Linked DNA regions of Homo sapiens: region 2 is reported to be linked to region 1. The links are microRNA targets in miRTarBase. Many come from high-throughput screens and were not tested one by one. Region 1 holds a microRNA gene; the other region holds the end of a gene's coding sequence.
The links. The annotated mature microRNA hsa-miR-4756-3p reads CCAGAGAUGGUUGCCUUCCUAU and lies in region 1 at 1,741-1,762, opposite strand. An mRNA with a match to its seed (bases 2 to 7 or 8) in the 3' UTR can be bound and repressed. Matches are read on the target gene's strand: a 7mer-m8 pairs with bases 2 to 8, a 7mer-A1 pairs with bases 2 to 7 and ends in A, and an 8mer does both.

Region 2: the mRNA of ZBTB22 is a reported target of hsa-miR-4756-3p. Seed matches in the 3' UTR shown: 7mer-m8 at 537-543.

What each region holds. Positions count from the first base shown.
Region 1 is chr20:54,066,678-54,069,823 of GRCh38, forward strand. MIR4756 (microRNA 4756) reads right to left here and starts at 1,808; the gene lies at 1,731-1,808. The region is part of intron 1 of BCAS1 (brain enriched myelin associated protein 1); the gene reads right to left. RefSeq lists an enhancer at 2,636-3,146.
Region 2 is chr6:33,312,439-33,315,438 of GRCh38, reverse strand. It overlaps ZBTB22 (zinc finger and BTB domain containing 22), which reads left to right. Exons shown (of 2, transcript NM_005453.5): 2 at 1-1,021. The coding sequence ends at 427. TAPBP (TAP binding protein) reads left to right here and starts at 1,361. Exons shown (of 8, transcript NM_003190.5): 1 at 1,361-1,434; 2 at 1,575-1,745; 3 at 1,962-2,222. The coding sequence starts at 1,398. RefSeq lists a silencer at 1-67 and enhancers at 1-147, 148-807.

The DNA of each region.
Region 1 (3,146 bases):
GTTGGCTAGCCAGAAAGAGTGGTCTCACCAGAAATGCATCGGCCAGAACCTTGATCTTGGACTTCCAGCCTCCAGAACTATGAGAAAACAAAAATGACTGTTGTTTAAGCCACCTAGTCTGTGGTGTTTTGGTTACCACAGCCCAAGCTGACTAATACAGATCATCTTCTAGTAAGTGGGAGAATGAGGACTTAACCCTCGCAAACTCAAGTCCAGAGTTTAGACTTTTAACTTTTCTATTTTCATACTTTCTACTGTCTCTTCTGCTGTATAAGTGATGTTATAGTTTTATGAAATATTTATATGTAATATAATAGAACATGGAATAGAAAATATTTCCTGCATATTCATTCTTGCAATGAGAAAATTATAACTAGGCAAGGAATATATATGGTACAATCTAAAGTGAGGATTAGGCCGGGCGCTGTGGCTCATGCCTGTAATCCCAGCAGTTTGGGAGGCTGAGGTGGGTGGATCACTTGAGGTCAGGTGTTTGAGACCATCCTGGCCAACATGGCGCAACCCTGTCTCTACTAAAAATACAAAAATTAGCCAGATGTGGAGGCACAATGCCTGTAATCCCAGCTACTTGGGAGGCTGAGGCAGGAGAATCGCTTGAACCCAGGAAGCGGAGGTTGCAGTGAGCCGAGATCACACCGCTGCACTCCAGCCTGAGCGACAGAATGAAACTCTCTCAATAAGTAAATAAATAAATCAAATAAAGTGAGGATTGAACAATTGAAGGGTCACTGATAATCACTGTAAGGATTTAGCGCCAGGGCTTGGCAGTACTCAGGTGAGTAAACGTTAGTTATTGCTAATATTATTCATTTATCTTATTATTGTTATAATTGAGTTAGTTCTGTGTTCTGATCCATGAGTGAATTGGCCTCCTGGAAGCTGCCCTCAAATCCCTCCTCTTTTACACAGTGATTGATGGTCCATGTCGCCTCCTTGTAGTTACAGATTAATAATAGGCCCTCCTCCTGGAAACAGGCCAAACGCCAAACCCCATGCAAGCTGGCCTGGAGAAAGCACTTCTGAAACTTCATCACCAGCAGGCAGCTAGACGACTGTTGAATGGGAGGGGGGGTGGTTTTGAAGGGTGGAATGGTGACAGAATTAGTCACCAAGTAAACAAGCAACACCTTCGATCAATGCAATGGAATGTAGGTAACCCAGGGGCCCTCCTCACTGCTCAGCTGAGGGTGACGCCAACATGGCCAGGCTGGCACACCCAGCAGAACCAGCCCTCTGCCCCCAACATCAGTAAAGACCTTGCAGGAGGAAAGAACAACCCCGCTTTGCCTGCCCCACAGTCCTGCAGCTCCATGTGTGTGCCCGCACAGTGCTAGGAACACGGCAGCTATTATCAGGAGTGCCAGGTACAGTGCTACAGGTTGCCTCCTGTACAAGGGGACACAGGGAACTGAAATCCAGTCCTCACTGAACTGCCCAAGCCCTGATTCCTGGTATGGGACTTTGTGGGTCCAGGGGCAGGGGTGCCTTGATCAAAATCACCTTGGATGTTTTAGGGCTGCTTGGTGATTGATGTTTTGCTTTCGGAGTACTTAATTATGTTTGCACAAACGGATGGTAATCCTAAAAATCTTAGAGCTCGCTCTCATAGTCTTATTATTGCACCAAACATTGTTAAGTGCATGATAATCGCAGGTAATTTTAATTGGAGGCTTACTATGTGCCAGGCAGCACCAGGGTGAGCATAGCAGGACACAAAATATAGGAAGGCAACCATCTCTGGTGCAGAATCGGCAGCAGAGAGTGAGCGCCTCCCTGCATTTTATCCCCCAGGTGCTCACTGGCTTCACCCTTGCCCTGACCCTGGTGCCAGGCACTTCACACACATTGTCTCCTTTTCCCTTGCAGAGTCCCATTATTCCCTGATTGCACAGATAAAGAAACCAAGGCTGAGCAATGCCATCCCCTCATCTCACGAACGTCACCTCCATGAGGGTAGGCACCTTACTAGTCCTACTTGCCCAAGAGTAGCAGTCAGAAAGCTACGGGGAGGCACACCTGGGGTTTGAACCTGGGTCCACGTGACTCAGGCACTCAAATCCTGAACTGCTTCAGGGCAGGGCACTTGGCTTGAAGAGAAGCTGCAGACACAGAGACAATCAAGTCACATCTAATACTCCAGCAGGACAGATGAGCCTGCAAGGTGCAAAGGTACCCCCGCCCCCAACCCAAAGCCTTTTTCAATTCCTCTCCCTCCACATCTCTTGTCATGGTAAAGCAGGCAGAATCCATGGGCTTTAACGGGCCCATTGCTTTTCCCAAAGCTCATGCCTTTTTCCTAAAAACAAAACCCTTCTGGGTTCCAGAACTCTTTGGAAAAAAAGAATCTTCTGTGATTTGGGACATTGGTTTGTTCCCCCACCCTCACTTAAATGAGAAACTACTTTAGCATGCCCCGCCCCGTCTGTTGTCTTTATTTAGGAGGAAGCACCCTCTACATACCCTGAGTATATACACCCAGGGCCTGAAGCTGCTGTGATCAGCTCAGGATCCCCAGGAGGCTGAGGCGGATCAGGCCCTGGACTCCGGGGGAACAATGTAAGGGACACCAAAAAGCTCAGCCATGGAGATGAATAGTATTTTAACATGAAATTTGTGAAAATCAAAATTACCGCTGTTCCTGATCTTATCTTTCTGTAACATGTTCATAGTTTGTTCATCACGGGTGTCTTGCCATTAATTCTGACTTTTAAAAATGTTGTGTTAACATACCGTTTATCTCCATGACTGAGTTTTTTGGCATCCCTTACATTTCGTGCCCAAGGTGAGAGTCTCACTGGCTGCACCCTCATCCCAGGCCCGACTGGACTCCAGTTCCACAGCATCCTTTCCATGAGACCTGGAACCAGATGCAGCTCCCTCTTCACCCAGCTTCATGTTCCTAGTTGTAAAATGGAGACGATGGTAACAGCGAAAACAAGAACCACAGCTAAGAGTTACTAAGTGCACAGGTATTTACGGGCAGTAGAGTCCTCTCAGCCCTTTGATCTCAGTACTGTTATTAGGTTCACTTTACAGATGAGGAAACTGAGGCCCAGAGGGCTGAGGGAACCTGCTCCAGGGCACCCAGCCAGCCCAGGGTGGAGCTGGGGCTGGCATCTGGCGGT
Region 2 (3,000 bases), not on the chromosome of region 1:
CTTCTCCCACAAGAGCATGCGGGACCGGCACGTGAACATGCACCTCAATCTGCGGCCGTTTGACTGCCCCGTGTGCAACAAAAAGTTCAAGATGAAGCACCATCTGACTGAGCACATGAAGACGCACACAGGTCTCAAGCCCTACGAGTGCGGAGTCTGCGCCAAGAAGTTCATGTGGCGAGACAGCTTCATGCGCCACCGAGGACACTGTGAGCGCCGGCACCGCCTGGGCGGGGTCGGGGCCGTACCTGGGCCTGGGACTCCCACGGGGCCATCCTTGCCGTCCAAGAGAGAGTCTCCCGGAGTGGGCGGGGGCAGCGGCGACGAAGCGAGTGCGGCCACGCCCCCGTCCAGCAGACGTGTCTGGTCCCCACCCAGAGTCCACAAGGTGGAGATGGGCTTCGGTGGAGGTGGAGGAGCAAACTGAAGGGGCAGGCTACTGGGGTGGGGTAGCTTTCGGGAAAGGGAATAAGGAGCACGATGCAAGGGCGCTGTGGCCCCCGGGTGATCTCCCACCACACTTACTGTCTTCCTTTATCTCTGTGGACTTGTATATATTCTGGAAGGGGAACCACAGTTTCACCATCGCCCGCCCATTCTACTACTCAACCCCTCCCCCCCAAGGTATTTCCAGAACTAAACCCTTCCTTTCCCTCTGATGGGTACACTGAAGCCCCTGCTCCACAGAGTAGATTGCACATGGAGGGAGGGAGAGGGGGCGTGTTGAACATCCTGCAGTCACAGGGTCAGGGGTCAGGTGGTTGTAGTCTGTGCCTGAAGTCTGTGTTTGTGTTGTCGTGGAGACAAGGCCTTTGAGCCCCACCCTTGTCCTAGAACCTACCCCCTCTCAAGGATGCGCTCTTTATTTCTACCCTGTCTCTCCCCGCCACCCCCGACTTCCCGTGGAAATTCCCAACTCGGTTCTCATGGAGGAGTGGGTGGAGACAAGGAGGGAGTAAGTCGTAGGAGTACAAGGTTTTTATTTTTTTTAACAGTGATTAAAATATTTATTGGTCATTTACTTGGCTTCCCGATAACCCGTGTGTTTGCTGGGGACGCGGCACAGATAGGGGGAAGCCGGAGTAATGGTTTTCGGGCAAGTGGATGTTGGAGAGCACACACAGGAGTTGGGGGGCGGGGGAGGGCCTGGGGTTGGGGAGGGCTCGAACTCGGGGCTGCTGGGTAGTCCAGGAGGGCGCGGTAAGGCTGGGGTGTCCTGGTGAGAACTGGAGAGGATCTACCCGGGTCCCTGCCTGGCCAGTGGGGAAACACCGGTCCCCCAGGCACCTTCACCTAACCAGAGCGGGGATTTCCACCGCCCCTCATGCCGCCCTTTGGAGGAAAGTGAAAGTGAAAGGAGGAAGAGGAGGCTTCATGGCTGAGGAGGTCGCAGCGCCATGAAGTCCCTGTCTCTGCTCCTCGCTGTGGCTTTGGGTGAGCGAACCCCGCGACTCATCGCCCAAGAACTAGAGGGAAGCGGAGGGAGGTGGCCCCACTGGAGCCGATGCCAGGGTGGGAGTGGGGCAGGTCACCAGACATACAAACCGCTCCTCACTCGCGTCCCTATACGCCAGGCCTGGCGACCGCCGTCTCAGCAGGACCCGCGGTGATCGAGTGTTGGTTCGTGGAGGATGCGAGCGGAAAGGGCCTGGCCAAGAGACCCGGTGCACTGCTGTTGCGCCAGGGACCGGGGGAACCGCCGCCCCGGCCGGACCTCGACCCTGAGCTCTATCTCAGTGTACACGGTGAGTCTCTAGGGACTCGCCGCCCCCCTACCTCTGTCGCCTCCACCGAAACCCCCTCCTCTTTAGATCCGGCAGTGACCTCAGGCCTCAGCTTCCCCTTTGTAAAGTGAGTCTCACTACGGGGTAGTCTGTGCATTTGAAGTTCCCCGAACGCTGCCCTTCCAGCCCCTTTCCCGGCGGTGACTCTACAGCTGCAACTTCCTTCTCTACACTCAGACCCCGCGGGCGCCCTCCAGGCTGCCTTCAGGCGGTATCCCCGGGGCGCCCCCGCACCACACTGCGAGATGAGCCGCTTCGTGCCTCTCCCCGCCTCTGCGAAATGGGCCAGCGGCCTGACCCCCGCGCAGAACTGCCCGCGGGCCCTGGATGGGGCTTGGCTGATGGTCAGCATATCCAGCCCAGTCCTCAGCCTCTCCAGCCTCTTGCGACCACAGCCAGAGCCTCAGCAGGAGCCTGTTCTCATCACCATGGCAACAGGTAGCTGGGGAGGGGAGGTGGAGAAGGGTGGGTAGATTCTAAGGGTCCAGATCAGCCGGTGGTCTCGCTTTATGGACTTGAGCAAGACATTTCGCCAATCGGGGTTCAGTTTCCTTTTTTTGTTAAGAGAGGTGGTTTGGCTAGAATGAATCAATCTCTACCGCTCCTTCTAGCCCTCACCCAGTTAAAAAAAAAAAACAAAAAAAAAACTGCAGCTTGGCAGGGGGTAGGGGGAAAGCAGGGCCGGGCAGGGGGGTTACTTTCTGGTGTTTCGAAGGGCGGGGCTTTGAAGAGGTGGGGTTTCCCGACACCAGACCTTGAGAGACTTGTCAGGTGATGCGAGGTGGGAGGGGTTCAGAAGCAGGAGCGTTTTTTCTCTGCTCTTCCCAGATCTGTGTCTTGCTCTGCACCCTCAGCTTTGCGGGTCACTCTTTCAAAACCCAGCACTCTATCCCCACCTGCGCCCACACCCGGCGCTGCGGCAATCCGCAAAGCAAAGGCTCTTGCACTCTAGCGCGTTGACCTTGCCTGACAGCCCCGTGTAGGGATGTGCTGCCGCTCTGTGGTCCGCAAACAGGTGGGCTCGAGTGGGCGGATGGACGCGGCTGGAGATTGGATAGCTCCTATTGCACTGAAAGGTGCATTGCAGTTTGAGGCCCAGGAGTCAGAAGCTTTTCTAGGCTGGGACGTGGGAGGGACTGTGCAGATAATTCAAGAATGAGGAGAGTCTGACCTGGATATCTGGGAGCTCTCCCTCCTGGCAGCGGAGGCGGGGTAT